Linked DNA regions of Homo sapiens: all the other regions are reported to be linked to region 1. The links are microRNA targets in miRTarBase. Many come from high-throughput screens and were not tested one by one. Region 1 holds a microRNA gene; each other region holds the end of a gene's coding sequence.
What was found. The annotated mature microRNA hsa-miR-4768-5p reads AUUCUCUCUGGAUCCCAUGGAU and lies in region 1 at 2,457-2,478, shown strand. An mRNA with a match to its seed (bases 2 to 7 or 8) in the 3' UTR can be bound and repressed. Matches are read on the target gene's strand: a 7mer-m8 pairs with bases 2 to 8, a 7mer-A1 pairs with bases 2 to 7 and ends in A, and an 8mer does both.

Region 2: the mRNA of ZNF90 is a reported target of hsa-miR-4768-5p. Seed matches in the 3' UTR shown: 8mer at 3,989-3,996, 7mer-A1 at 2,439-2,445 and 8mer at 2,315-2,322.
Region 3: miRTarBase lists PLPP3 as a target of hsa-miR-4768-5p. Seed matches in the 3' UTR shown: 7mer-A1 at 2,535-2,541.
Region 4: miRTarBase lists FBXL16 as a target of hsa-miR-4768-5p. Seed matches in the 3' UTR shown: 7mer-m8 at 1,687-1,693, 8mer at 2,308-2,315 and 8mer at 2,330-2,337.
Region 5: the mRNA of ZSCAN23 is a reported target of hsa-miR-4768-5p. Seed matches in the 3' UTR shown: 7mer-m8 at 3,571-3,577 and 7mer-A1 at 2,572-2,578.
Region 6: the mRNA of TMEM174 is a reported target of hsa-miR-4768-5p. Seed matches in the 3' UTR shown: 7mer-A1 at 691-697.
Region 7: miRTarBase lists ANKRD18A as a target of hsa-miR-4768-5p. The part of its 3' UTR that is shown has no 7-base or 8-base seed match.

What each region holds. Positions count from the first base shown.
Region 1 is chrX:17,423,433-17,427,942 of GRCh38, forward strand. MIR4768 (microRNA 4768) reads left to right here and starts at 2,449; the gene lies at 2,449-2,522. All of the region lies in intron 1 of NHS (NHS actin remodeling regulator), which reads left to right.
Region 2 is chr19:20,118,889-20,123,398 of GRCh38, reverse strand. ZNF90 (zinc finger protein 90) reads right to left here. Exons shown (of 4, transcript NM_007138.2): 4 at 2,234-4,510. The coding sequence ends at 4,039. Among named protein-coding and RNA genes, the nearest start is that of ZNF90, 43 kb to the right of the region's middle.
Region 3 is chr1:56,492,388-56,496,897 of GRCh38, forward strand. It overlaps PLPP3 (phospholipid phosphatase 3), which reads right to left. Exons shown (of 6, transcript NM_003713.5): 6 at 2,374-4,289. The coding sequence ends at 4,164. Among named protein-coding and RNA genes, the nearest start is that of LINC01767, 80 kb to the left of the region's middle. RefSeq lists an enhancer at 1,690-2,348.
Region 4 is chr16:690,727-695,236 of GRCh38, reverse strand. It overlaps FBXL16 (F-box and leucine rich repeat protein 16), which reads left to right. Exons shown (of 6, transcript NM_153350.4): 4 at 161-245; 5 at 540-603; 6 at 814-2,737. The coding sequence ends at 962. Among named protein-coding and RNA genes, the nearest start is that of WDR24, 2.6 kb to the right of the region's middle. RefSeq lists an enhancer at 4,411-4,510.
Region 5 is chr6:28,430,781-28,435,290 of GRCh38, forward strand. ZSCAN23 (zinc finger and SCAN domain containing 23) reads right to left here. Exons shown (of 4, transcript NM_001012455.2): 4 at 1,875-4,298. The coding sequence ends at 3,685. Among named protein-coding and RNA genes, the nearest start is that of ZSCAN23, 10 kb to the right of the region's middle.
Region 6 is chr5:73,173,899-73,177,898 of GRCh38, forward strand. It overlaps TMEM174 (transmembrane protein 174), which reads left to right. Exons shown (of 2, transcript NM_153217.3): 2 at 162-1,245. The coding sequence ends at 267. Among named protein-coding and RNA genes, the nearest start is that of TMEM174, 2.7 kb to the left of the region's middle.
Region 7 is chr9:38,567,940-38,572,449 of GRCh38, forward strand. ANKRD18A (ankyrin repeat domain 18A) reads right to left here. Exons shown (of 16, transcript NM_147195.4): 16 at 3,425-4,120. The coding sequence ends at 4,106. It also overlaps the pseudogene SNX18P3. Among named protein-coding and RNA genes, the nearest start is that of FAM95C, 25 kb to the left of the region's middle. RefSeq lists an enhancer at 923-1,592.

The DNA of each region.
Region 1 (4,510 bases):
ACAGTCCAGTGAGATAATGAATTAATTAGAGACTTGGAAGGGTTAGCATGAGAGCCTTGTCTGTCTTGCCTCTGGCCCTCTGTCTGCTCGGCTAGATCCTGGTTAGGAGCTTTTGGCAGTCCTCAGGTTGGGGATGAGATACCTTGGCAGGCTTGAGTGGGCATCAAAGACACCAGGAAGGATCCCAGCCCAGTTTCTGGCAATTCTATCTGTCACTGGGTTTTATGCCTGTGTTCAAAATATTCCATTTCTCCATCTGTAAAATGGAGATAATCCTTCCTCACCTTGCAGGGATGTTGGGAGGATTAATTAGCTAGTGTTCCTCAAGTGCTTTGAAGATGAAAAGGCTTGTGGAAGTGCTAAGTATTAAGGCAAGGCAGCGAATGCCTGCTGGAAGTGCTCTTCCTTTCCTCATCCTCTTGTCAGCAGTTGTGTTTCTCTTGCCTTTTCTGCATATTTCACAGACCAAAGTGCTGGCATGGTAGGTAGGACAATGCATGGATCAGCACAGAACAAAGACAGTAATGCCTTATTTTATGCCTTGCTACTAACTTGGCTTATCAGTTGGCATGACCTCTGAAGATCTTTTTGCTCTGAATGTTTTAATCATCAAGTTCTGGTGGTTATCCAAGGTGATCCTAATCTACTTTGGGGTGGAGGGAGGAAGTGGTGTCAGGAGAGATCAAACCAGGCCACCTTGAGCTGAAAGCTCTGAAGGAGAAGGATTCCTTGAAATGGAGGTAATTTTTGAATTATAATAAGTGAGAAGACTGCAAGGGAGACAAGCTGAGGGACAAATGCTCTGTGCTTTTCTCCTCACTTTCACAAACAGGAGGAGAACTTCCACTGACCTAGCAGTAGTTTGCTCCTCCAGGCTGTCATGTCTTCTGATCATGTCTTTTATGAGGTGAATTTCTCCTCATGAAAGACTAGACTTTAAGGAGAGATTCTGTGCAGGTCCCTACAGTGTGGAGATGGATTGATTGGGCCTACAGATTGCAGCTAATCAATTCATCCTTTGCTTCCCAAAGGTTTATGCATTTGGGTGGAGTTCACAATGAGTGGTCTGGGTGCAGGGCCGTGTGGAGAAGCATGTCCACCGCTCTTGCCCCGGTGGCTTCTTTAGATAATCTTGCAATCTTCACAGGTTCTTTTCTAGGTATGTTATTGTTTGGAATAACTCCCTTGAGTTTGGAAGAAGAAAAGGAATAGTACCAGGTTTACTCAATCATTTGTTAGTTTGCTTGTTATCTTAAAAAATTCTATAAAATTCTTTTGAGAAGTTTCTCTGCTCATTGATCTTGAAAATCTCCTTGCTTTAGAGAATGGATGTGCTCCTCATATGCTAAGGATAAACCAGATTTTGGTAAATCAGGTTATCTTAGGGGTCCCAGGTGAGTTTGCCATTTTAACGATGCTTAGAGTGAATCCTTGTATAAGGGAAAGTATCTTGTATATTCTGTATCCTTTAGGAACTCACGTCTGTTGACTTTATCAGATGTTGGGGTGGTGGTGAGGCTAAAGACCAATAGGCGACATATGGCAGGATCTTCCCTCCAAGTGACCCTCTGGAAAGGGCTATACTTACTTAATTTTGGTGGAGCTCATCATAGGGTCAGGAAACCAGGGAGAAAGCTGAGCAACTGGTATTTATAGATCTTTCTCTTTAAATCAGGTTTGCTCATGATTTGTCTGGTCTTTATTCTTCTCCATGTCTGAAACTGAGTTCCTTGGATTCCCTTCTCTTCAAAGCCCTCTTGGCAACCTTCTGAGGAATGGCAGAGTTCATTCTGATCCACGTCCGGTGAGCGTAGCTCAACCGTGATGGAGCTTGACCTGTCAAATTCACAGAAAAATGTCCGTTACATATTCCAGCTGTTCCTTAAACATGCTCCCTAAGAGCTAGTTCCATTTGTTAGCTGTCAGAACGATGTGGAGGAATTGCTCCAGACCCTTGGATGTCATCAACCACTTTTGTTTATACACCAGTTATTTTCTCTATTAGCAAATCAATGTTTGGCAAAAAGAAAGCACAGGCTAAGAACTTTTCCTGATGAGTTGCTGCCCCAGCCTTGGAACTCTTCTCAGCCAAAAAAAAAAAAAAAAAAAAAAAAAAAAAAAAAAAAAAAAAAAAAAAAAGAAAGAAAGAAAGAAAGAAAGAAATTGAGGAGGAATTCAGTTTTACATGTTTTCCTTCCTGCTTACATGAACAGAGGAGGCCTACCTGAAGCTGAATCCAAGCACTGCCTTTGACGTTGGTAAAGATGGGGCTCTGAGCTCACATATCACCTTGGAAACTGGATCCTGTTACTGCTGGGAAAGGAATGCTTGGTTGCCAAAAGCATTAAGATAGGGAATGTGGATTCCACCTCTCAGTGCTCCTGCCTTGGATCAATTAGGTAGGATACTACCCAGAGATACAGACATGATGGACCAAGTAACTTCTCCAAACTTTGATTCTCTCTGGATCCCATGGATATGGGAACTGTGATGTCCAGGAGATCCAGAGAGAATCAGAGTTTCAGTGAGTGAAACCTAGAGTGTGTGCTGCTAGGATTTTCCTCATAAACCTGGGTGTTTTATTCTTGTGGGCCAGAAAGTTATTTCATTCCTAAACCCGTGATGTAGACTTCTCAGAAATTCCAGTGGTGTGGAGGATCCAGCTTCTATCAGCTCACAAGAGCTGATTGCACATATCTCTCCCCAACTGCTGTTCAGTGGCATCAAGTTGGTAGCTTGAAATCTGCCATGATGAGAGTATTTACACTATAGAAATTGGCAAATATGGCAAATAAGGGTCCCCACCACCCATGCTTGTGAAACATCTTCCAGCACACCAAGGAAATTATCCTAACACGTAACATCACTTATGGGGGCTGTTTAGCTTCAGGGGAGGAAATCCCCTTTGCTCTGATCTCATTGTGTGTACCTGCTTTGCATAGGCAGACTACCCCTTGTTCTCTCATCTATTAAACTCGACCTGAGAGAGAGCTTCATGAGATGGGTTGTGTGACAGGAGATCACTAGGGTAATGAGTCTGTTCCTTTCGCTGCTCAGCTATATGACAGGTTATTTTACCTCTCTAGGCCTCAGCTTCCTCTTCACTATAATAAAAGTAATTTAGATCATTAAATAATTGCTAAGTTTCCTTGTAGCTTCGACATTCTGCAATTTGATGAGTGCTTGGCTGCTGGAAAATGTCATGTGTTTCAAAGGCTTGGGGCACATGCACATCATTCACAGTGACCAGCTGAGCTCTCTCATTTTCTTTCTGGATCTTGGACTCCCAGTAATTCTACTTTTATCTGGACTTCTATCTTCAGCATGAATGAGCAGGGTGCCTCTAAGTGAGAAGCATAATTGATTAGTTCCTTCCATCTGGGGGTGTCAAAGCACTTTCAAGTCAGTAGTCAGTATCCATCATGGTTGCTCTGCAGGGAAGACTGCCTGAGAGTGCCTGTTTTGCAAGGGACATATCACAGTGGTGGACCAAGGACCCAGAATTATTGACTTGTCTTTTAATCAGAAAAGGGGCTACTTCCTGGTCTTAAAGAAGTTCCAGCTTTGAGATTAATCTGCTGTCTATAACCCCAGATCACTTGGCATGCTCGGCCTGGCTGACCTGCTGACAGAACTTGATATATTTCCCATCTCTCTGACATGGAGATAAACCTGAATAGGATTTTGCTAGTTCAGAGGATTTGGGGATACATGTTTAGGTAAAGTTTTCCTATAAAATTCCTTAAAAGAGGTGTGGTGTGGGTTTTTGTTGGGAATTGAGGCTACACTTAATGGAATGTGGAAGAGACCAAATCCACCTTTATGGGGTGCCTGGATGGAAAAGGTGTACTGATAGGAAGTTGGGACTGACCACAGACTTGGGCTGCTTTGTGATTTTGCTTACAGTCTTGCCAAGACCTAGCATCTGCCAAAATACGTGTCTCTGGGCCCTCTCTACCGAAATGTACACATTGACATGCACCAACTCATGCCGCTGTTGTTATGATTGTGTTTATGAAGCCATTTACTCTTGAATCAAGAACCTGAGTGACTTGCTGAGTGTTTGTAGGTTTATTGTCCACTCTGCCAGCTGACTGGGCTGTGTGTGTTCAATGGCTGAAGCCATGATTCCCACAGCTGAAGGTTTGGTCCATTGAGTCTGCCACCATAAAGCACAAGCTATGTGAAGGGCTGGAAAAGAAATAAATTCTTCTGGGATTAACTCCAAAGCAGAAGTACAGTTCTGTCTTGCACAGATAATAGAGGCTGGGTTCAAACTTCTTGGGGTCAGACTGCCAGCTGTGACCCACATTGGAGGTCTACCATCTTTTCTTGTTGGAATACTTCCTAAGAATATATTTTTTAAAAAATCAAGCACCCCTTGTGTATTTTACATTTGATATCTGAATTTTCTAATCGTAAGTTGAATTCATCACAAAAGTATATTTTCCAGCACATTGTGTATTCTCACAGCTCAAAGTCTGATGCACGGGTCAGCAACATCAGCATC
Region 2 (4,510 bases), not on the chromosome of region 1:
AGAGCACTTTTACCCAGGTTACCATTTTCCTCCCATTTATGTGGTTCTGTTGTGGTCTCCTGCTTCTCTTAAGCTATCCCAGGTGAGAGGTGATTATTTCTTGCATGAATGAGATTTCCTTTTTTTCCCTGTCATAGGATCCTTAGATTCTCCCTACTGGAAGCAACATGCAGAAGGGCAGGAATGATAACAATGTACAAATATGTTTTCTGCCATGTGGTCACCATAAGCAGCTTGCAACATGGCCCACCTAGAAGTCACTTACTTTCAGGCAAGCAGGGGTGTTTTTCTATGATGTGTCTTTCTCTTAAAAGCACCTCTGATTAAGTTTAGCACAGTCAGGACAATCTCCATTTTGATAAACACAAAGTCAACACATGAGTAACCTAATTTCTTGAGTGATTTTCCCACCAGTTGCACATTTTTTTACACTCAAGGAAAAAGTATTACACAGCAGGTGTGCAACAGACTGGGAATCCAGCGTATTATCTTAGAATGTTACCTACCCACTTGAATAAAATTTTAAAATAGTCTTTCTGCTGTTTTGTTATCTACGTAAACAAAGACATTATGTGCAAATAATAATTAACTACTTTCCAGTTTTATTCATTACAAATATTAGCTAACATCTTTTTTTCTGGCTTAAATTATTTTGTCCTTATGTACCAATTTATACATTCGCACACACATAGAACAACAAAAATATACCCAATTATATACTTTTGGTTACATTTTCATTAAAATAAGTGTTATAAATAATTTGTTTGTTTGAAGAGGGCTTTTATTGTTGTACTCAAGAGTGTTATTTATGGAGACAAAATTGCCTGTGCTTCAATAGGCAGATTCTGGAAAGAATTTGAAACATAAGCTATAAAATTTTACATTAATAAATTCAATACAAAGCAGAAAGTGTAGATTTGCTTTCAACATTTTGAAGGTGTTTTCTGTTATTCACCAAATTAAAATAAGTTGTTTTGTTTCAATAATTGTGCTTTTCTTCTGAAAATATGTACCAAAGCAAACTCACAAATACACTTACTCACTTTATATTTTTCTTACACCTAAGGTTTACCTTCAGAGTAATATGTGGATATTTCACTCTATGAAAATTAAAACTAAAACTCTTGTGTTTGCAGGCAGAGAAACCACAAGTTTATAGAAAACTATGTAACAAATATTTATTAATAATTTTTCAGGACTCAGAAATGTTGCCTAGGCTGGAATGCAGTGGTGCAATCTCGGATCACTGTAAACTCCACCTCCCTTGTTCAAGCTATTCTCCTGCTTCAGCCTCCACGCAGGTGCTCCTATGCCTGGCTAATTTTTATATTTTTAGAGACAGGGGTTCCCCATGTTGGCCAGGCTGGTCTTGAAATCTTGACGTCAGGCAATCCAGCTGCCTCAGCCTCCCAAATGGTTGGGATTACAGGCATGAGCCACTTCATCTGGCCATATTCTTTTTATATTTCTGTATAATTTTTATTACGACCATAAAAATAACCCTGTAGTCAATTAAAATTTAATTGTACATTTTCAAATAACTAAAAGTGTATAATTACACTGTAATACAAAGGATAAATGCTAGACGTGATGGATACCTTATTTACCCTAATGTAATTACTACATATTGTAGTCCTGAATCACAGTATGCCATATAAAGCATAAACGTAAACACATACTATATACCCACAAATACTAAGAATAAATTTCTGTAAGAATAAAAATTTAACCTATGGGAAAAATATTCTTCAACTCAATTAATTTAAAGCCACTGGCAAAGTGATTACTAATGATGTTATTCTACTATATACCAAATAGTATACTGCTACCATCTTGTAACTATACCCTTGAGTAAGGTGGGATAGGTTAAAGTTAGTGGCATAATATGGCTTCATTAAATGCAAAATAGTCTTAATATGGTAAAAAATAAAATAAAACTAGGCCAATCTCAGCACTTTGGGAAGCCGGGGCAGGTGGATCACTTGAGCTCAAGAGGTCGAAACTAGCCCGACTGATATGGTGAAACAATTAGCCGGGCATGGTGGCACACACCTGTAGTCCTTGCTACTTGGGAGACTGAGGCAGGAGAATCGCTTGAACTTGGGAGGTGAAGGTTGCAATGATCACACAGAGATTGCGCTGCTGCACTCCAGCCTGGATGAGAAAGTGGACTCCATCTCAAAAAAAAAAATAAATGGATACAACAAAATTAACTTCACACACAATCTAACAATTTTTTAATGTAGTGTATTTTATTACATAAAATTAGTAAAATAATACAGTAATTTAATATACCTTTAACTGTAATTCATAATTTCTCTCACTATAATGTAGAAAAGTATTACTCTGAACACTACCTTATACATTACTTAATATAGGTCAAATACGAACAGCCTGTCCACTTATATTTTCATCATGCATCTTACATTTTAATATCCTTTCTCTTTAATAGAAAAGGTTATAAGGAATGCCCAATAAAGAATCTGTAATATCTCTGATGCAGCATCAATTGATCACATGCTTTCACATGTGAATAGAAATAAAGTAACAGCATAAATTTGAAAGCTCTATTACCTTATTCACTTTTCAAAAATTTTTTCTCAAGAAAGCAAGTATACTTTCAATGTAATTACAATGCTTCAAAAAACCTTTTAAAGCTATATATAATTTATCTAACAATTTTTGTTGTGGATTCTTTTTTATACTCAACACTGTTTTAGTGTAATGTCTGAAGTATCAGTGCCTTATTCTACTGTAAATTCTCTGATATTTACATGGAATTCATTTTGAATTAAATATTTTTTATATTTACTGTTTCTGCAAACATATATTTTAGTATCAACTCTCTGGTGTTTTCTAAGCTGTAGTTTTTGAAAAAAAATTTGTTTCCAAATTCACTACATTTGCAGGATTCTTCTCTAACATAAATTCCCTGTTGTTGAACAAAGCTGGAGCAACTGCTTCAGGGTTTTCCTCTAGTACAAAATGTGTGCAATGAAATCTGTGATGCAAGTAAAGGTAATACAACCCCCTTTATATGTGTAATGGTTGTCTTCAGAATACTCTTCTTCACTTTAAAGGCTTCTATTTTCTGAAAGATTTCTTGAGCATAATTGCACTTTAAATGCTTTCATTAACTGTGAACCACCTTCTGTTGGGTAAGATGTGAGTAGGCATTAATGGGTTTTCCATATTTTTTATAATTGTGCAATTTTTCTCAAGGATACTAGCTTTCCTGTGAAATAAGGTGTATGCACTGATTAAAAAGTTTTCCCACATTCTTCACACTTGTAGGAGTTTTGCCAGTATGAATTATCTTACCTACAATCAAGTCTTGCAACCATATAAAGGATTTGTCAAATTTTCTATTATTTCTAGGGTTTCACACTAGTATAATCATCTTTATGTACAGAAAAGTTGGAGGTGGTGGTAAAAGCACTGTCACATCTTTCAAGTTTGTAAAGTTCCTCTTCAGCATGAATTATCACCATGTCTCTTAAGAACTGAGAACTTGTGGCTGGGCATGGATGCTCATGACTGTAATCCCAGCATTTTAGGAGGCCAAGGTGTGTGAATCACAGTTGGAGACCAGCCTGTTAAATATGGCAAAACCCTGTCTCTACCAAAAATACAAAAATTAGTTGGGCATGGTGGTGGAGGCTGAAGCAGGTTAATGGCTTGAACCAGGAGGAAGAGGTTGCAGTGAGCAGAGATCGTGCCATTGCACTCCAGGCTGGGTGAGAAGCATGAAACTCCTTCTTAAAAAAAAAAAAAAAGAATTGAGAACTTGTTATAGGCTTTGCTGCATTTTTCACACCTGTAGAGTTTCCGTCCAGTATGAATTATGTGTAGTAAGGGTTGAGAACTTCCTTAAAATGATTTGTCACATTCTTTATTTTTGTAGGAGTTATGTTTCATATAAATTCTCATATTTAGTAAGAGTAGAGGGGTGGTCAAAGGCTTTCCAACAGTCATCACATTTATACGGTTTCTCTCCAGTATGAATTATCTTATGTTTATTAAGGGTTGAGGAATATTTCAAAGATTTGCCATGTTCTTCACTATGTAGGCTTTCTGTCCAATATGAATCCTCTTATGTGTATTAAGGTCTGAGGACAAGTTAAAAGCTTTGCCACATTCTTCACATTTGTAGGGTTTCTCTCCAGTATGACTTATCTTATGACTAGTAAGCTGTGAGGAGCGCTTAAAGGCTTTGCCACATTCTTCACATTTGTAGGGTTTCGCTCCAGTATGAATTATCTTATGTTTACTAAGGACTGAGGAGCGCTTGAAGGCTTTGCCACATTCTTCACATTTGTAGGGATTCTCTCCACTGTGAATTATCTTATGTGTGCTAAGGGCTGAGGAGTACTTGAAGGCTTTGTCACATTCTTGACATTTGTAGAGTTTCTCTTCAGTATGACTTATCTTATGTGTAGTAAGGTTTGAGGAGCGCTTGAAGGCTTTGCCACATTCTTCACATTTGTAGGGTTTCTCTCCACTATGAATT
Region 3 (4,510 bases), not on the chromosome of region 1:
CCAGTCCCTCCACTCCCTGGGTGCCTTCCCTCTCCTACCCCCACCAACAAGAGTTGTTCTGCCCCTCTGGACACTGGTTCTTCAGATTTGAAGTGAAAATTTGGCCTCTGGCCTTAAGGATCTTACTAGCTACATTTTGGGGCTCAAACGGACATCACCACTTATATAAAAATGCTGTGAAATTGCTGAGCTATTCCAGGGGCTGGAGGGGACTGCATTGTCCAGCAGCAAAGAGCAGGCTGACCTTGGTGGCAAGAAACCAGACATGAGCCACTTGGGTCTATTTCCAGGCCTTGAAGCCAAATGGAGCATCCCTGGCTGGATTTTTCTTTCCTTTTTTTTTTTTAGACAGAGTCTCACTCCACTGCCCAGGCTGGAGTGCAGTGGTGCAATCTCGGCTCAGTGCAACCTCTGCCTCCTGGGTTCAAGTGATTCTCCTGCCTCAGCCTCCAGAGTAGCTGGGATTACAGGAGTGTGCCACCACACCCAGCTAATCTTTTGTATTTTTAGTAGATGAGATTTCACCACGTTGGCCAGGCTGGTCTTGAACTCCTGACCTCAAGTGATCTGCCTGCCTCGGCCTCCCAAAGTGCTGGGATTACAGGCATGAGTGAGCCATCATGCCTGGTCCCTGCTGGATTTTGAAGTTGCTGGGGACTGATGACTTCTTTTTTCCGTCTATTTCTCTCTCTCTCTCCTTTTTTTTTTTTTTTTGAGACAGTGTCACTCTGTCGCCCAGGCTGGAGTGCAGTGGCGGGATCTCGGCTAACTGCAAGCTCCCCCTCCCGGGTTCACGCCATTCTCCTGCCTCAGCCTCCCAAGTAGCTGGGACTATAGGCGCCCACCACCACGCCCGGCTAATTTTTTTGTATTTTTAGTAGAGATGGGGTTTCACCATGTTAGCCAGGATGATCTCAATCTCCTGAACTCGTGGTCCGCCTGCCTCGGCCTCCCAAAGTGCTGGGATTACAGGAGTGAAACATCACGCCTGGCTTCTCTCCCTTTTTAAATAGGAATGTCTATAACTGTTATTCTATGCCTGTTTCACCAGTGAATTTAGGGAGCAGATAACTTGTTTCTTAATTTTCACAGGTTCATAGAGAGCAATGTATTCCAGGGTGGATTAAACATGGAGCCTCCTTTTTACCTAATTTGAATGGGTTAGTTTAGATGATGAGATTTGGGGTGTTTAAGTTGTTAAGATTTAGGATTTTGACTTGATACTGCCATATCCTAGGTCTTTAGGGGATGTGGGGATAGGGTGATCTGTTTTGCATTTGGGATGGATGTGAATCTTTTGAGGGCCAGAGGGTGAACTCTGGTACTCTGAATAATGGTTCCCGAAATATGGCCATGTCTTAGATCCCTGGCATCTGTGAATATATGTTCCATGGCAAAGAGGAATTAAGGCAGCAGATTGAATTAAGTTTGCCAGTGAACTGACTTTAATATAGGTGATTATCCTAGATTATGAGCAGGTCTGTGTAATCAGCAAGGAGGGCCTTTACATGTGAAAGGGGTGGCAGAAGAGGAGAACCAAAGAGATGGCAGGGTGAGGACTCTACCCAATGTTGCTTCCTCCATGTGAACATGAAGAGGGCCACAAGCCAGGGAAAGTGGGTGGCCTCTAAAAACAGAAAAGGCAAGGAAACAGCTTCTTGCCTAGAGCCTCCAAGATTGTAAGACAATACATCTATGCTGTTTTACGTTTGTGGTAATTTGTTATAGCCGCTATAGCAAATTAATATAAGACCTATCCTACAATTTAATGCTCTAGGATCTTAGACTAATCATTTCATCTTTGCATTCTTTAGTATTCTTTCTTTCTCAAAATAACTGCTGTGAAGATCAGACAGAACAAATAGGCAGAAATCCCTGGCACACAGGTGCTCAATAAATGTGAATTTCTAGCTTCCCCTTTTCTTCCAGGTTGGAGAAACACAAGGAAGGGAAGCAGGAGCCACAGGCCATTCTCAGCCTTCCTTTGATGTGGGCTGTGTACAGGATTCCCTCAGTAAGCTCCCCCAGCATACCTTATCTAGAGTGAGGGCTGCTTATCTGCCCTCGGGGTTCCTACAGCTCCTACCTCTCTGATGGAAAAATCCTCTTTAGAATACAAAAGCTCTTTAGAAGAGCCTGAGATGAGGGTAGAGCCAGGGCCTCATTCTGCAAACAGGCTTTCAGAGATGAAAGAGCAGGGCAGACATCGGTATCTACCCTATGACCACCACATTTCCCACTGAAAAAAATCAGGAGTTGGTGCGCTGAGATGAGGCAAGCCCACTCAAAGAGGCCAGCCCGCGATGCTTCCTTCTCCTACCCACACACCTGAGACAAACATCTCTCAAACACTCCAGGCTTGCAAGTCCTTAATTAGTTGTGTTACGAGCTTTTATTTAAAAAGCACATTTAATACAAGTATAGTTTCGCAGATACAAGTTTTCACTTTGTATGCTACAAAAGTCTTTGAATATTATTCTCTTTACAAAATGGAACCTTACAAAAATACTGACAATTTAATGTTTTTATACAGTTTTCTCTAGTTGCAGTTATTTCATTATAAAACAATGTCTACCACAGAACTATGATATTTTAGTTGATATTTAAAAAAATTAACTCAATGCTTTTTTAAGCAGCTAATGTAAATAACACAGGTCGAGACACAGTTTATAATCATAGTGGATATAGCTAAATTGTTTCAGAAATAATATCTTACATAGTTAACTTTTAATGTTTTATACATTATTTATATAATATTTATATATAAAAATCATAGCTTGCTATAAGTTGAAATGAAAGGACGGATTCTGTAGTAAGGATGTGCATGTGGTTGATCCATATGGTTACATTTAACCCTTTGAAAGGTCTGCATCCAAGATCTAAACGCATTTCTTCCTTCCTCCTTTCCTCAAAGGTTCAGTAGAAGGGGTCCCTGTCTATCACCTAGAGTGGGACCTTGCATGGAAGGACACTTACGGATAGAGGATGAGGGAAACTCTCTACCGAGATTTAACCCATATGTTCTGCCCAGCAGAACCTACCAAGAACTGCCCTAGGGCTCAACCCCAAGACAATAGTGCTTTACACAGCAAGAGCAACTCCTACAAAGACCCTCAGCTCTGTCATCCTGAAGGGTAACCTCTCATGCATGAGACTGCCTGCTTCTCTGGCTCCTTCTGATTTGCAACAGCTAAAAGGTTGGTTCGATTTTCATTCTGCCCCCTTCACCCTCCCATCTGTTGTACAGAAGGCTGCTTTCCGTCAGCTGGTGGCAGACCATGCCTTGCTCATTCCTGGGCCCTCACAGGAAATCCTGGTGGGCACGCAGCAAGGATTTCAAGGGAGAAGGCAGTAACCGAAGTCGAACTGTTTCTAAGAGTATGCAAGTGCCCGGTGATTGACGTGCACAACATCAGCATCCTGCAATTGACATTTCAACATCACAGGATGATGCGTCAAAAGAAGAAAAGTGAGGGCCTGTGCCCTCGATTTCTTCTGAAATTGTGCTGTTTGTGAAATTCACTCGTCCACAAAGAGTCTGCTAATCACTAATGTGAGGAACTATGGTTGTTGGCCTATGGGCAGGGGAGGTGATAAGGCCTTAGAACTGGGAATCTAGATTCGGGATCTGATCACTTGACTGAGCAAACTTGCTCTTTCCTTTTATTTAAAACACAAAACAAAACTTCCTGAACTAAAGTCACAGTACAGAATAGAATGGGATGGACAGAAAGACTCAAGAGGGCAGCTCCGCAATGGCTATTTTCTTGATTCAGTGCTATTTCTGGCATCATGTGCTGCAATGTGAATTTTTGCTTTTCTCACAGGCCTGGGATTCCTCAGGTCACAAAAGGTGACCAGCAGCCTCTACTCAAATCGTTTTAGTGTTTGTTCCTGAACAAGCTGTGTTCACTAGAACATGAACACTTAAACCAATTGCACATCCAGGACTCTGGCACTTGGTGTTAGTTTGCTGTTGTTTCCACATAGGCAAACACTACCTATTTTGGAAGGCCACATAGTAAAACATTTTTTTTTTCCTTTTTAAAAATCAGTCGGGCAAAAGTTTTTCCCTACATTCTACTGTCTGATGAGATTGGAGAGCAGCAAGAACTTGCTGTCAGCAGTCATTTTACAAAAACAGCTCAGGAGGTGGGTGGCACCTACATCATGTTGTGGTGATTGTTCCTGTCAATAATGTCCACAGGTGAAAGGATTTCCTTCCGGATAGCAGGGGCAGGCAGGGAGAGCGTCGTCTTAGTCTTGAAGAGGTCAGACACGAAGAAAACCTAGAAGCACAAATCAGAGATCGAAGTCAGTAACTGACATCGGGGGTCTGGGTACAGAGGGAAAAGGAAGGTCAGAGGAGCGCAGACTTCAGGAAAAGGGGCCCCAAATCATAACTCTTTGAATAGGGAAGGACAACAGAGATCATATCATCAAGGTTTATTGTACAGATAGGGAAACTGAGACCCGGGAAAAGGCAGTGACATGTCCCAGGTTGCACAAC
Region 4 (4,510 bases), not on the chromosome of region 1:
GCTGGACCCCCGTCCTTCCCGGTGGGTGGGAGCGAGGAGGGGCCAGCGGCTGCTCCGGGTGGGGCAGGAAGGGATTCACGCCAGGGGCACTCCCAGGAAGACGAGGGATGGCCGGGGCCAGGTGATTTGAAGGTGGGGGTCCCCTCTGGTGCAACCACAGGTGTGTACGCATCACGGACACTGGCCTCAGCTATCTGTCCACCATGTCGTCCCTCCGCAGCCTCTACCTGCGATGGTGCTGCCAGGTACCGGCTCTCACGCCCCGGGATTGGGGGATCGGCGGGGAGGTGGGGGCGCGGGGAGAGCTCCCGGCCCCACTCAGATCCTGGGAGAGTCTGGGGCCCCTCCCTATCCAGCAGCCGACCTAAGCGGAACGCAGGGGTCCCGGCGGCCCCCACGAGCACTTCCCAGCCGCCTCCCGGCTCCGGGGGGGACGGAGGAACCCCGGGCTTGAACCCGCCTAGCCCTCCATGGACCCCAGGGTGCCCTCCGCCTCGGTGCGAGCGGAAATCGTTAAGTCGCTCCTCCACTCCCGACAGGTGCAAGACTTCGGGCTGAAGCACCTCCTGGCCCTGGGGAGTTTGCGCCTCCTGTCTCTGGCAGGTGAGACCCCCGTTTCTGCTCTGACGCTGGCAGTGACCACCCACCCCCACTTAGTCCACCCGCCCAACCTGCCCGGTCCTTGTGCAAACTCACACCCGGCGCGGACACACAGTCCCGGGTCCGAGGCGGAGGAGGAGGGAGGCGCGGCCCGGCCGTCCCCGCCCGAGCCCTGGGCCGCGCGCACTGAGCCGCCCTCTGACCCCGCCGCAGGCTGCCCGCTGCTCACCACCACCGGGCTGTCGGGCCTGGTGCAGCTGCAGGAGCTGGAGGAGCTGGAGCTGACCAACTGCCCCGGGGCCACCCCCGAGCTCTTCAAGTATTTCTCGCAGCACCTGCCCCGCTGCCTCGTCATTGAGTAGCGCGAGGCCCCCGCCCCGGTCGCGGGAACCCGGCCATGACCTGGGCGGGGGCGCGGGGCGCCGCCGAGCCCCCTCTTCCCGCCTTGCGCTCGGGGGAGCCCCCGCGCCCCCGGCCCAGCGCGGGAGGCGGGGCGAGCCGAGGGAAAGCCCCTCCCCGACCTTCGGTCCCTCCGCCCTCCCAGCCCCGCCCCGGGCAGGGGGGCGGCGGGTGGGCCCGCCCCACGCACGCACGCACACTCGGGGACTTTGTGCATGCCCCTCGTGCCCGCACTGCACGCCGCCCTCCGCCACGCCACAGCCACAGCCGCCGCCATCACTCGCTCGCCCTCCCGCTTGGGGGGCGGGGCTCGGTCCTTGGGGGGGCTTTGAGCTCTCCAGACTGTGCCCTTACCGCCTTCCCCGCCACACCCGCTCTGTCTTCCCACTGTCCCCCCCATCCCGGGCAGGGCCCAGTGGGATTGAGGGGGCTGGGTCCCCCAGGACACGGGCCCAGAAGAGCCCCACGGGCTTCCTGCATCTTCCACCGCACCATACCTGGAGCCCTCCGAGGGGTGTCAGGGGAAACAGGCCACCGCCAAAGCCATGGCCCGCCGCCGAGAGCCCAGGCCCCACCCGCACCTCCTCACCCATCCAGCCTGACCCACGCGGCCTCTCCTCCTCCTTGCCGCTGTGTGGGGCAGTCCCCTGTCCGCCCCAAAACCCGGCCTTGGTCCCTGGCCAGGCTGAGAGAATTGGGCAGGGAGAGGGCGGAAGGGCTGGCGATCGCTTGGAGTCATTAACGTGATCCCAGCTGACTCCGGTCGGCCTCAACCCAGGGGTGGCGCAGGCACCTTGCAAGCCTCGAGCTGTAGCCACCCTCAGGCCTGGGAAGAGGCCTGGGCCGACCTCACACCTCAGCCCTTGCACCCGGCCGGGCTCAGTTCAGGCCTGGGCACCGAGCTTCACCCTGGGTGGGTCTCCTCAGGTGGAGTCTGCAGAGTGGACCCAGCCAAGGGTCAGGGTCAGCACTGGGTCAGCGACTCCAATCTTCCAGTGGCCAGCACACCCTAGACACCCCGAGGAGGGAGGGCTCCTTTCTAGCCTGCCCCCCCACCCCCACTTCACCCCTCCCCAGCTTCCCAAACTTCTGTCTGCCCAAATGGGCTCTGACCGTGCTCTGTCGGCCCGAGACATTTGGAAGTCCTGGGGGATGCTGGCAAATCTCAGCTGTTGCTGAGGAGGGGGCTGGGACCCCTTCCCATCCCAACCTTGAGCCCCAGGAGATACCGCGCCCACACCCAATCTTGGGACACTCCCTATCTGGTTGGAAGAGAGTAACCAGTTTCCAGAGAGCCAGAGAGTGAGAGAGAGAAAGAGAGTGAGAGAGAGAGAGAAAGAGAGAGAGAGATGCTGTTGAATCAGAAACAGATCAACAGCCCAAAGATTTTCCTGTCCCTGGAGTGCCAGCCCCAGGAAGCTCCAGGGCTGAGTGGTCAGGAGCCAGTTTCTCCAGCCCCTCCTCCCCACAACCCCTAGTGGGGAGGGGCAGCTGTCCATTTGCCCAAAGTATTAATGCAACTGAAGCTGTGATATTTCCAACGACTGTAGGAGGAAAAATTAAGGGGAGAGAGGAAAACAAAACCAACCAACCCCTAAAATCATTTTCTTATTGTACATAACGACCTCATTCTCCTGTATATGCGGAAGATATAACCTTATATTTGGTAAGTGTTTCTTGTGCTATTTTATCACGTGACCTGTTTATAAAAATATATATTAAAAAAGTTGTAAAAACATGTGTCTGAGTTGTTTTTAGGTCCCCAGACAGCGGTGTAGGTGGGCATATCTGCCCTGCGCATCCCAGGTCTCGGGATTCTCCTGTACCTCTTATCAGATTTATTCTTTCTTGCAACAAAGGGGTAGAGGCTGGATGCCGACATGGTAGAATGGAAACAGCAGTGACTACATGGAAGGCAGAGGACCTCCCATTCCTTAAAGGGAGAGACAACACTGAAGTCACTACACATAATATTCCCTCCAACATATCCAGACTCTAGCCCACCCTTCCAGAGAGGCAGAAATAAACCCTGTTCTATACACAGTAACAGGCAAGGACAAGGATGTCGCAAAAGATTACAAAATGCACCAATAGCAGACAATGGCTCACACCCAGGAGAGACAGAGAGGTCGAAAAAGGCAACTGAGGCTGGGCACAGTGGCTCACGCCTGTAATCCTAGCACTTAGGCCGAAGCGGGTGGATCACCTGAGGTCAGGCGTTCAAGACCAGCCTGGCCAACATGGTGAAACCCTGTCTCTACTAAAAATACAAAAAATTAACAGGGTGTGGTGGTGGTTGCCTATAATCCCAGCTACTAGGGAGGCTGAGGCTGAATCGCTTGAACCTAGGGGGTGGAGGTTGCTATGAGCCGAGACTGCGCCACCTCACTCCAACCTGGGCGAAAGAGCAAAACTCCGTCTCAAAAAATTTTAAAGAGACCGGGTGCGGTGGCTCACACCTGTAATCCTAGCACTTTGGGAGGCCAAGGCGAGTGGATCACCTGAGGTTGGGAGTTCGAGACCAGCCTGACCAACATGGAAAAACTCCATCTCTACTAAAAATACAAAATTAGCCCAGTATGGTGGCCCATGCCTGTAATCCCAGCTACTCGGGAAGCTGAGGCAGGAGAATCGCTTGAACCCAGGAGGCGGAGGTTGCGGTGAGCCAAGATTGCACCATTGCACTCCAGCCTGGGCAACAAGAGCGAAACTCCGTCTCAAAAAGTTTTTTAAAAAAAAGAACGAGAGCAACTGGTTGAACAGGTGTGTCAGGCACTGGGCATTCGGTGGGGATTGAGCCAGAATGTGATTCCTGCCTTGGTGGAATTCACACTCGTATGTGACCGACAACAACCAGTAAACAAACGAATGGGTGGTGACAAGTGCCGTGGAGGCCACAGTGATGGAGAAGCCCATTAGGGCAGTGGTCAGGGAGGTCCGCTCTGTGGAGGAGGCATCGCACGCACGTACAATGTCCCTGAGGCAGGAAAGGGCTTGGTGGGCTGGGAATGGGGGTGGAGGCTGCCATGGCTGGAGGTGGGCAGGGGAAGGCGGAGGCCAGGAGTTGGGGTTCATTCACAGCATAGTGGGAGCTGCCAGAGGCCTCAGGCAGAAGACCTGGTGCCTGACTTCTGTGCGGGTTTCTGATCAAAGGGGAAAGACGGACCCAGGAAAGCCGTTGGGAGGCTGCTCCCGAGGTCGAGGAGTGAGGAAGGAGGGGAAGACTGGGGGCACTCGGAACTTGTCTAGGGATGACCAGATGTCATGATGGACCTGGGGATTAAAATAGGTGATGGCATTAAAATACTGAAATTGAGACTTAAAAAACAGGCCAGGCGCGGTGGCTCACACCTGCATTCCCAGCACTTCAGGAGGCTGACGCCAGAGGATCGCTTGAGTTCAGTAGTTTTAAGACCAGCCTGGCCAACACGGTGAAACCCCGTGTCTACCAAAAATACAAAATTAGCCAAATTAGCCGGGCGTGGTGGCGGGCGCCTGTAGTGCCAGCTAC
Region 5 (4,510 bases), not on the chromosome of region 1:
ACAGCCAACAAATGATGTGGAGTGAATGTGATAAATTATGAAACTACTTGGTACAATATCTGCCCCCTTCCCCTTCATCCGACTACCTGCTTAAAATGGCTCACTGTTTGCCTTAACACTGCAAGCTCTGATCCAGTACTCTATCTTCTCACTTTCTTCTACAGTATAAGGTTGAACACTGTACTCCATCGGTCCCTATACCACTGAAACACTCCTGTGCTTCCAGGATGTTGTCCATCTTGTCTGGTAAACCATTCACTCAATAGGTTAATCTTAGGTAACTAGTTATGTTAACAATGGGTTTGTCTTAATTAGGGGCGGGATGGGGGGGCCCTCTGTTTTGTTTGTGCAGACATATTATCCCATCCTTTCTTTCCTAATCCAATAGATCTATTACTGGGGGTTACCAGGCTAGGTGGCTACACCTAAGTCTCCAACAGCCTTTTTCATATATATTCTGCCTTAGCTTTCATGACAGAACATTGTAATCTTTCTGATTCTCTGTCTTTTCTATATGCTTGGTTGAAAAAATACTGCCTATTGCAAAAATTATTAGTATGGGGACCGTACCTCCTGGTTTATACCTGTTGTCTTGGTGTAATTATTAACAGCACTCCTTTTCATTTTCAAGTGTCCCAGATTGGACAATAAATTATATAGTTACCTTATGTGTGTGGACCACTAATATGCTAATTAGATACAGATTTTCAGGCTCTGCCTCAGAAACTGATTCAGTAGGTCTGGGGTGGGGCTGAGAAAACTGCACTTCAAACCAACAACCCAGGTGATTCTAGTGCAGCTATCATCAAGAAATAGTGCTTTCAACACTGCCCATTGGCAGTTGGCATAGAAAAATGGGGATAGGTTCAAGGAGATCTAAAAATCACAGTGGTTTATAGACTGCTTTTCTCCCTGTCCTCCATTTTATGGAAAGTAATAAAAAGTGTGAGGAGTAAAAGGCAGTGAGATTTTCACTGCTTAAGACAATAGTATCTAAAAACTTGGACCAGTTGATAAATAAGAGAGATTTCTAATAATTATTATGAAGATGAAGCATGTTTCTTGGCAACACTCTGTCTCTGCATCTATCTTTTTATTTTTCCTTTGGTCAACATTTTTTGCCCAATCTAGAGTTTTAGCATCTAATTTTACCTTCTGTCTGATTCTTTTTTATGTTCTTATATTTTGTTCTTTTTTCTTTCCATCCCACTTTGTTGTTGCTGTTGTTTGCAGATGCCTACAGTGGGTCTCAGGGCTCCAAGTGTAAGTGTCTATGAAACCATATATAATTCACAATTATCTTTGTTCATAATTGGTTTCCTTTACAAAATTTTTAAGGCAATAAAAGACAGAAAGATTACTACAAGTGCTTAAGCACTTTGGACTTCACTTTTCTCATTATCTTAAATGGAGAAGCATTTAAGATATTTATAAACTCAGAATACTATAGAATATGTATTACATCACTTTATGGAATACATATTTACTTAAGAAGTTGATTTTACTTCAAAATCGAGTCTACTATATTTTTCTTAACTTCACTCAAAAATCTGTAGCTATTTATCTTGGAAATAATTTAACCTCAAGACACAATAAAAAATACTTTTCAGGAAATATAAGTTTTTTATAATACCCGCAATAAGCCTTAAGTAGTGACACAAACAGTTTGATATGTAAGGTGTAAGAATATGTGATAGAACTAAATACACTAAACTGAAAAATACCACCCATCACTTCTCCATTTCTCTGTAGAAGAATTATGTGCAATTCTGGTTGCCCACGCCTTGTTTCCTAGCTCATATGAAAGCTGTTAGCTTTTGAACAGAAGGAATTTAACTTGGACTAAACTGGGGAAAAGAATGAAACAGAATATGTAACATTTTAAAATAGTGAGATTTTTCATCTATAGGAGTTTGTTAAACTATGGAGTATGAACAAATAAAATTCTATTCACTTATAAAAAGAATGAAGAAGTTCTGTTATGATGTGGACATCTCTAAAGATTATATTCTTTCATGAAAACAGCAAGGTATTAGAAGAGTATAAATAATATGCCATCTTCCTGAGTAATGGAAGAAATAAGATTATACATTCATATTTGCCTATATTTACATAAAGAAACACTGAAAGATACATAAGAAACTAGTACAATGGCTACTTATAAAGGGAAAGTAGACCTTTTTGTATTATTTTGATTTTTGAACCAGGTGAAGAATGAATTATCTTTTTAAAAAAGTCCTACTGAGTAAATTAAATTTTAAAAGCTAAAAATAATAATTACAAAAATAAAATGCTTTCAATGAGGAATAAATGAGAAGAGTCTTTCCTGGACTCCACTGTAAATTAAATAGAGGAGTTGTGCTTTATTGAAACATATAAATGGGTGGGTTTGTTGAGCAACTTCAGTGACTTATAAATCCTATAAATTCCATATACTTGTAATTTTTATTTGGTGATATAATGCCTCCAGTGGCTTAATAGAATGTTACACTAGGAAGTAGGAGACAGGGTTCTAGTTCCAGCTCTGCTTTTAACTGGCTGTATGATCTTAGTTACTTCCCAGAACTTCCTTTTCTCTTATCTGTCAAATAAGAGCAAGCAGAAGTGATCTCTAAGGTCCCTTAGAGTGATTCTGTTATTCTAAAGTTACTTGCTATGTATTGGGTATTTGGGTGTATTCCAAACCAGATTGTTTTCACCATAGGTTTTCCATTTCTTTGTCTCCTGGACCTTGTGTAAAGCTTTGTAAAGAGTTACTAAGTCAATGTTAAGGGAAATAAATTTTTTTATTTATGATCTTGGTGGTAATCAATAGTAAATGCTGAGAAAATGTGGAGGTTATAAAAACAATCAACATGAAAGAGTGATCATACTCTTCTCTTCAATCTTGAATATGTTTCAAATTTTCCATACAAAATATTGAATAAAGGAGAAAAAGGCAAAAACAAAAAAATGCTCATTATATGTTACGGGAAAAATACAAAGAGGCCTGTATTTTCCAATAAGAAATCTGAGGTGAGATATCAGATTTTTAGCTAAGTTTCTTAGCCTCTGCGTAAATTTAAAATCATGAGCAATATTTGTTATGAGGAGCCACTGAGCTGCTAATAACATATGGCTGCTTCAGTTCCTTGGTTCCTAAAGGCTAACTAAAAAATCTATAGAAATCTAACTTACTATAAATCTACATTTATATAGGAGGATTCATCTGCCCCTTTTTGTAGGTTACAAAACAAATTATCATATTTTATGTGAATGGAAAGAAGTCAGGAAACCTATATTATGAATTTTATTACAATTATTTTTAAGTTAATTTTTAAATACTCGGTGAACTGCATTTGAGATTATTTTGTACTCAGCCTACATATAACTATTTTAAACTTTTAAAAAAAGTTTTTAAAAACTAGGATGAAGAAGTTTTCCTGAAATAGAAAACTTCTTGCACAGATGTGTGTGAAACTAGGTCTACAGCATACATGATGAAATCAACACAAGAGGCAACATTCAGTATTGCAAAGCTGTGGATGTCACTGATCAGAGAACTCGGCAGATGTATTTAAGATATTATGCTTCTCTCTGCATAAAAGTAAGGGAATTTTTACTGGCTTTCCCTTGAACTTTTCTATGCTAGAGGACACAGCAGGGACAAAGTAAGAAATATTATCCCCTACCTGTTCCAAGGAGCTAGCTTGATTCAGCCACTGGGTGGACTTTCCGATGCTGGATTAGGTTGCAATGGTAAATGAAGTTCTTGCCACATTCTTCACATTCATAAGGTCTCTCTCCAGTGTGAATTCTCTGATGCTTAATGAGGACTGAACGTCGACTAAAACTCTTATTGCACTGATTGCACTGGTAAGGCTTCTCCCCAGTGTGAATTCTGAGGTGATGGAAAAGCCCGGCATTCTGGCTGAAGGCTTTGCCACAAACACTGCACTGGTAGCGCTTCTCCCCAGTGTGGAGTCTCTGGTGCTGGAATAGGCCTGACCTCTGGCTGAAGGCCCGCCCACACTCATCACATTCATAAGGCTTCTCACCTGTGTGTGTTCTCTGGTGCTCGATAAGGATGGAATTCTGGGTGAAGCTTTTTCCACATTCACTACAGATATAGGGTCTCTCCACTGAAGAGCTCACCCTTTGCTTTTCCAATCTGCCCTCACGGTCACAGGTATCTCCATACTCAGGAATCTGAGTAATATTACCATTCTGTTTTCCAAGAACTTGTATAAGAGATTTCACTTCCTGAGAAATCTCCCTCTTTGGGGCTAACTCCACATTCCAAGTCCCAGCCTTGCCATCTAAAATAACGATAACATGAAAGATAACATGAAGTATGAAAAATAACAGATTATCTTTCCAAAGACAAAAGAAAAAAAGTGGCCAGGAGAATGGGTGGAAGGGGACAAGTAGCCACTTTTTCTGTTTATTTTTCCACTCTAAAGCTATTATACCCAGACCTCAGGGAAAAGATGCATGGTATTATAACTGCTTACTTAATTGTCTGCCTCTC
Region 6 (4,000 bases), not on the chromosome of region 1:
CCTTCTAGCCATCTCCGTCATGATCTGTGGCTGTTTGGTCCATGAATAAGGTGTTGGGAGACTGTGAATCTCTTCTTAGCCTGTTGCCCACGATGGCAGCCTTGGTTCTGTGAATGGTGCTTTGGACCATAATGTACCTGTGTTTTCTGCTCACATTTCAGGCCCAATCCTGATGTTGACCAGCTAGAAGAGACACAGCTGGAAGAGGAGGCCTGTGCCTGCTTCTCTCCTCCCCCTTATGAAGAAATATACTCTCTCCCTCGCTAGAGGCTATTCTGATATAATAACACAATGCTCAGCTCAGGGAGCAAGTGTTTCCGTCATTGTTACCTGACAACCGTGGTGTTCTATGTTGTAACCTTCAGAAGTTACAGCAGCGCCCAGGCAGCCTGACAGAGATCATTCAAGGGGGGAAAGGGGAAGTGGGAGGTGCAATTTCTCAGATTGGTAAAAATTAGGCTGGGCTGGGGAAATTCTCCTCCGGAACAGTTTCAAATTCCCTCGGGTAAGAAATCTCCTGTATAAGGTTCAGGAGCAGGAATTTCACTTTTTCATCCACCACCCTCCCCCTTCTCTGTAGGAAGGCATTGGTGGCTCAATTTTAACCCCAGCAGCCAATGGAAAAATCACGACTTCTGAGACTTTGGGAGTTTCCACAGAGGTGAGAGTCGGGTGGGAAGGAAGCAGGGAAGAGAAAGCAGGCCCAGCTGGAGATTTCCTGGTGGCTGTCCTTGGCCCCAAAGCAGACTCACTAATCCCAAACAACTCAGCTGCCATCTGGCCTCTCTGAGGACTCTGGGTACCTTAAAGACTATAAAACAAAACAAAACAAAAACATCAAACCAATGAAATAAAATAAATCATGTCTCCTGCTAGAATAGTATTGGATACCTGACTAAATTACACAAAATAGACCATAATAGGATAGCGCTGTGAATACATCCTTCCCGATCACTGAGTCACAGTGACCCTTGGCTGCTGCTGTTCTCTTCTGCAAGGTTGAAGCTTGACGTGTGATGAACATGGGTGGGCTCTTGGTCCACCCCAGGCTGGGGCCTGCGCCAAGCATGAACTAGCTGGGACCAGTGGCTGACAGAACACAGGACTTCCCTAAGTACCCGTAGGTCTGTGGAGCAAGACAGAGCAGAGTTGCCATGTCAACACATGGGGAATGATATGATAGAAACAATCTTTATGACTAAAAGAAACTCATCTTCTTCATTAAAAAAACTTTGGTGTCCTTAATCTCTCTGAATTTGGCTGTGTAATAAACAACTGGAACTGACTCACAGACTTTAGAAGAGACAGTTTAAAACCATTAGGTTTTAAAAGAAAATATTTGCTTTGGGCTTCAAAGGCAATGCCACTCAAGGTAAGGGTGGTACATCCTAAAGGAAGACACAGGATTAAGCAATTCTTAAAAAAATTTTGACATAGCGTTTGTATATGGAGCAACTTTTACTAATTTTGATCAGAAGTATCTAGGTTTCCAAGGATATGAGTGAAGTAAGCTTGGTATATTATTGTTGTCATTTATGTTATATCTTGGGGACAAAACCTTTTCACATACACTGTCATGTTTGATGATAGGTGATAAGTGAAAATGATTTCATTTAAAGAAACTAGCTTTATGTTCAGCAGATCCCTGAGACACTGGTCCCTAGCTGAGGGCCATTGGTTTTGGAGAAGAAGTTTGGTGACAAGGACCAGGCTGAGCATCACCAGTGGCATGCTGACCAGCAGATGACATTTTGGGCCCCTCATGCCACCCTTGCCTTGAGTGCTTCTCTGACTGTCTCTCCCCAGCCCCCTGCCATTTTCACCCACCCCATAATTTTATGTTCATAAATTTGGGCTACAATGAACATCAAAAGTAGCTCAAAAAAGAAAATGTTATTAGGAAAAGGGCATCCCCACATACAGCTGGGTAGGGCAGAGCAGCCAGTTTGTCTTGGAGATGCCTAGAGTCAGATATGCAGGGAGGTGGCCTGGAGGGTTGGGATGGTTATTTTCTGGCACCAACAATTCCTGTTCCAAGACAGAGGGAAAAGTGCTAATGTAGAGGTCATTTATGCTTCCAAAGAGAGTGCTTCAGGGCTAATGGCTTCAAGAGCTCGAGGTAGGAGTAGGATCTGCAGCAGTCAGGGATCAGAAAACAGGAATTTGTTCATTAGTGCAATATTTATTTATTGAGCATCTACTCTGTGTCGGTCTGGGTCCATCAGGTGGAAATATAACTTAAAAATGTCACCAAGAAGAGAGCATACATGGTTCTGCCCTTGCAGAGCCTCTAGTCTAGTAGTCTAGTGGGGGAGAAAGATACGGATTCATTATCTGTATTAATCATCTATTAATTATTCTCTGACACCACTGAGAAGTCCTGTAGCCCTAAGAGGGATTTGGACTCATTAAAGGGTCATGAGGCTTGCTTCGGAAGTGAAGTCAGGGTCATTGCCTTGCATAATCCCAGAAAGCACTGTTCACAGGGTGTCTGTGGACCTGTGGAGACTGTGCTAGGAGCTAAAGGAACAGTGGCTGTCTCCTAGACAAAGAGGAGAGGGCAGGAGGGAGGGGCCTGGCAGAGCCCCATGTGGGAGGCAGTGTTATGAGGCATTCAGCAGGTTGTGTAAACCTTTTTATTTTTCTGCTGCTGCAACCCTCAAACAGAGGTGCCTTCCAGTAACCAAGAAATTACACCCACCGATTTTCTTGCTTTGAGACAACCACTCATGCTCTCTATTTCTTTATTTGGGAATTTCAGGGGCCAATCTGATGGGAAGCCCACTGTGTGGCTCCTAAACTCTGACTTCCAACCAGGTCCTTGCTACGTCTCTGACCAGCAGGACACATTCTCGACAGAGTTTCTGTTTTGTTGTCCAGATATTTGCCTTTTATCATTCTTTCACTCAGTATCTCATCAGGGATGAACCATGGGAAACTATGATCTGGGGCACTGATTGGAGTCCAGCTCCTGGCTATGCTCTTCTCCCTTAGATTATCAGTGGAGGAAGCAGCCCTGGCTCAAGGCGGGTACCTGAAGGTTTGGTGTCCAGCCAGAACCCACAGGGCCTGGTCAACCTTGTCAGTCTTGTCAAACATTTTAGGCTTTGTTTAAAGAGCAGTTGGGAAGCCATGGAAGTGTTTTTTGAAGAGGGAGCTGCGATCACATTTTGCACATTGACTGGTTAGGGCAAGACCCAGAGGGCATATACGGGTATAATATTCACTTTGCTGGTGACATTCAGAGCTAAGTGACCAGAATATCGGGAGCCATTTCTCCCCTCTCCTCCATCCTCAGCCTGGAGAGGGGCCATGTGGTGGGCATGCTCTGTGGATCTACACAGAATTAAAAATAAAGTTAAAAGGTCTTGTTGATTACAGGAAACGAGTTTCTTTTCTTTTCTTCTCTTTTCTTTTCTTTTTTTGAGATGGAGTTTCGCTCTTGTTGTCAGGGCTGGAGTGCAATGACGTGGTATCAGCTCATTGCAACCTCTGCCTCCCAGGTTCAAACGATTCTCCTGCCTCAGCCTCCTGAGTAGCTGGGATTACAGGCATGCACCACCATGCCCAGCTAATTTTGTATTTTTAGTAGGGATGGGGCTTCTCCATGTTGGCCAGGCTGGTCTCAAACTCCCAACCTCAGGTGATCTGCGTGCCTCAGCCTCTCAAAGTGCTAGGATTACAGGTGTGAGCCACCGCGCCCAGCCACGAGTTTCTTAAGAACTTGTTATCTCCTGGGAGCAATTTGGGCTGGGTTTTTTGCCTACAGTGACTGATAACAGCTGATGGTTTTGATGGAGAGGAAAGGGATCATCCAGGTTTGAGAAACAAGGCTCAGACACCAAGGGGAAGAAGCTTTCACAAAGCTCTCAGGACTTTTCTTTCTCCTTTTTGGGCCACTGGAGGGCAAATCTCTTGTGCAAGGAGGCTCTGTTTTCACTGCCCTCTGGGAAGTGCCTTCTAGAGGTGGAGGGCTTTCCAGAGATCCCAGTCACATTCC
Region 7 (4,510 bases), not on the chromosome of region 1:
TCCCACTCTTAAAGGTTGAGGGCCACCTTGGGGGTGGGCTCAGGGTCAGGAAGAAGCTGGAATTCACCACCTCATCCTTCGCAGCCTTCCTCTTGCCCTGTCTCCAGGCTGTCTCTTCAGTGCTGGTGTGGCACATCACGAAGTGATGGAAGACGTGGCACTGTGCCTGCACCCAGAAGCTGGCCATGTGGTTCATCCACGAGATTGGGCCCTTTCTGCACTTGAACATGGAGTCCTTCTCAAGATGGCCTGCGGTCTGCCTCTTGGCACCCAAGAAGCCCACAGTGCTGTAGGAGCCCTCATGCATGGACTGGAGCCCCAAAGGCAGCGCACAGCCTGCTCCTGAGCCTGCTGCTCATTTCCTCTATGTGGCTCCATCTGCAGCACAGTGGTTGCATTGAGGCCTGTGCATGCCAGGCAAGGCCAAGCTGGCTCAAAGAGCAACCAGCCACCTCTGCAAGGGTGTGCCAGGAGCAGGTGGACCAGCCACCAACCTCACTCGCTGCCAGTCAGGGTAAATCAGTTATTCTGCCCTGGAGGTAGGGCCCCAGTGCCATCTGCTTTTCCTCAGGCCTCTGCTCCATCAGCCGTCAAGTGGCAGCCCCTCAGGCTGTGGGAACCTGGCCACCCCTGATTCCTTGAGTGGGTGAGGTTGGTGGCCGGTCCACTTGCTCCAGGCACACCCTTGCAGAGGTGGCTGGTTGCTCTTTGAGCCAGCTTGGCCTTGCCTGGCATGCACAGGTCCTGGGTACTGACACCCTGCTCTGAGTGAGCTTGTCCTGTCTTGGGCCAAATTCTAACTCTGGCCAGGGCCACAGAAGGCTGAGTCCCCTGGGTGGTAATGCTGACTGCTGCTGGGGGGACCATAGTGCCCCTCCCCTCCCAGGGCCCAGGATGAGGCCCAACTGGGCCAGGACCCTTTAGGTATGGATCTCGCTCCCCAGCAGGGGGCCTCTGTCCCACAGGTTGGATGACAAGATGCTGCTGGCTGCCAGGGTTGTTCGGATGCCACGTTCACCCTTCCCTCCAGGGACATCAAAGTTTCCAGCTTCCCCTTTGAGAATGACTTCCCAAGGCCCAGGTGCCATCTGGGGCTGCAGGGCAGCTGGCTGCATGCTGCCCTGGCTTCTTCCATGTTGGGCTGGTCACTACCCACCAAGGGGGGTCAGATGCAGGAACCAAGTAGGGCGGTTGTCTCTGGACCTGCATCTTGGTTATCACGGAGCGAGACTGGGCCTGGTGACAGGGCCATGATGGGGTTGTCCTGGTGGTCCTGGGGGTGTCCAGAGGAGATGCAGAATGGAATTGCTGCAAGGATGAATGAGATGACTGTCAGCACAGAACAGGCACCTGGTGAGTGCTCAGGGATTACCCTCAGTAGCTGCCCAGAGGCCAAAACCACCCACCCGATAGCGACTGTCCCCAAGCCAGGAGGAAGAGAAGAGAGCAGGTCCCACTCACCTGAGTCCGATCAGTCAGCTGTGTTGAGATGTGCCTTTCACCTAGAAAACAATCCTTCATGCAGAGCCACTCACAGAGACTGCTGCGTGTCTCTAACTGCTCCACAACACAGAGGCGATGGGGACTCAGCAAGAGTGACATTGTGGGGTGACACAACCCACCACAACAGGAGCCTGCTTGGGTCAAGAGGGCCCAGAGTCGGTGTCCTCTATCCCCTGAACTGACATGTGTGCATGCATTGTGTTTGTGTATGCGTGTGTGTGTGTACATATGGGTGTGTTTGTTTGTCTTGCTTCTCTGGCCAGGCCTAGCTGCTCCACTCACAGGTGCACCCAGGTCCTCATCACTGTCACCACCAGGGCCCAGGGCCAGGATTAGAGCCTCCCACAGGTGCTCCCCAATTTCTTCCCTCTCCACTGAGGGTGGTCCTGGGGATGCAGACAGAGGAGGGGTGCCGAGCAGAGCAGAGAGGGCTGGCACCCTTTCTAGGTGGAACCCAGGTACTGTGTAAAGTTGGAGGTCTGCCAAGCAGTGCTGAATTCAACACATCTTCTCACGTTCTCTTTCCAGCCACCCTCCAGGGTGCCCTGACTCACCTTCCCTACAGATGGAGGCAAAGAGGCTCCACAGACAAACCCCCTGCCTGAGGTCACACATCGGCTAACTGGCCAGGTTCCTACTGACCAGGTGGCCCCAACGAGGCCCCTAATGAGCACTCCCCCATTGACCAGGCCCCACTGACCAAGTCCCCACGGACCATGTCTCCCTAACCAGGCCCCCATTAGTAGGCCTCATGGACCAGACCCCACTGACCAATTTCCCACTGACCTGGTCCCCACTGACTGGGTTCGCACTGACAAGACCACAATTTACCAGGTTGCTGCTCACCTCACCCCCATTGAATAATTCTCCATGGATCAGTCCCCAGCTGACTGAGCCCCCTCTGACCAGGCTCTCACTGACCAGGCTCCAAGCCACTAAGGCCCCACACTGACCAGACCCCTAATACACTGAATACACCCCACCGACCAGTTTTTTATTGTTTATGTTCCAACCGATCAGGCCCCACTAATAAGAGCACCACTGACCAGGTCCCCACTGACTAGGCTTCCAATGACTAGGTCACAAGATACCCACTGGGTGAGGCCTTCACTGAGGCGGCCACCACTAACCAGGTCCCTGCTGATCAGGTCCCAACTGACCAGGTCGTGATGGCTAGGTCATCTCTGACCATGGTCCACTGACGAGGCCCTTGAGCAGCTGTGTTCAAAGTCTCATTACAATGCCACCATCAGCTCACAGAACCTCCCCTCCCTGCATGTGTGCCCAGGGGTCAGGCCTGGGGGGTTTTCTTGGGCTGCAAGGCCTCTCCTCCAAGACACAGGGAGGGAGTCAGCCTCAGGCTCCAGGTACCCAGCTTCACACTCACCCCGCAAGGCCCTCTGGGCCCATCTCAAAGGAGACAATGAGGTGGCCTGGCACTGCCTGGACATGCCATCTTCCCTATTCCTGAGTGTCAGAGTGGGAGGAAGGGAGGGACATTTGGCAGACAAGACATCCTGTGCTGCTGGGTCTCCCAGGGCCCTTCCTGAAGAGCCCCGACCTAGAGACACAGCACAGAGACTGCAGGGAGACTAATCAAGAACCCTTGAGGCTGAGCCAGGGACCACATGAGGACTGTCCCCAGACAGCTAGAAGGCCCTTTGCTAGTTTCTTGGTACCTCAGTGGATGCGACAGTGGTTCTTCTGTTGGGGACTAGTGAGCGCATGATGGGAAGGGCTCGCCTGTGCTTCCTTGGTGCTGCCGCAGAGAAAATACATTAGTTTAGAACACCTTGTGCCAGAAAGTAAAAAAGTGCTGACAGAATAATGGGGACAATTCAAAAAGACATAAAGTCAGCTTGAAATGTCTACCACTGGCCTAATCTTGGGGAACTGGAGCACCAGAATCATGAGCTTTCCCTTCTCCTTTATTTATTGGTTTTATTTCTCCATGTAGAACAAAGAAGAAAATAAGAAAAACAATCATCTGGCAACCATCACAGTAATACTTGTTCAAACACAAGTCATCCATGAAATGCTAAATCTAGTGGGTTTTGAGGAGTAACCAGATATTTACAGAGCTTCAAAGTATCTCCACACAAAATACTATTGAGCTACAAGAAGAAAACCGTAACACTAGTATGGACAAACCTGGCAGATACTCTTTAAGTCTCCTACTACATATGGTAATAAAAACTGTAAAATGCAAAGAAGCCCTCGATGACCTTTACTAAAGTATCAATGATGACTTGGTTGTTTGGCTGTTTAAACAGCTGACATTCAGGCAATTTGAGTAGGCCAAACTCAATAACGCTGGTGTTCATTTGCAAGATCCACTTAAAACTTAAGGAGGCTAAAAAACATCATTTAAAATAACATATAAATATACACCATATGTGACATGAAAATATTCTACTTTAGTAAAGATTATGATGTTTTATATTATATGAGAAACAATTAAAATTTCATGTAAATAGCCCAGTAATAAAGTTTTATGATCTTTTAAATCATACAACTTTTCCTTAAGATTTTATGGTTAATCTCTTCATTAGATGTGGCTTACCAGTGGATTCTACAAAAGAAAGTAGACGGGAGCAAGTGCTCAACATAGCAAAACCTGGAAAGAAAAAGAAAGGATTATGTTCTTTACCTAAAACATTTCAGTTAACGAAGTGTAAGTTTAAAATGTGGAGTTGAGAACGTTATCAGAGTTAATAAGAATGAGAAATATGTACGTGCAATTACAATACAAAATTACTATTAAATCATTTACACATGGCGTTAATTCCAATTGTGGTTAAATATCACAGCTTTTTCATTCTTCATTCATGTACTCAACAGCCACGTGCTAAGGTACTAGAGCCAGCACTGGAATTACAAGATGAAGATGGCATGGTCCACCTCCCAATAGTCATATGCTATAACCTAAAAGACCGGCAGGTAATGTCCATATAGAGTCATAGATACCATGACAGGTATACAGCAGGGCACTACTGGAACATACAGA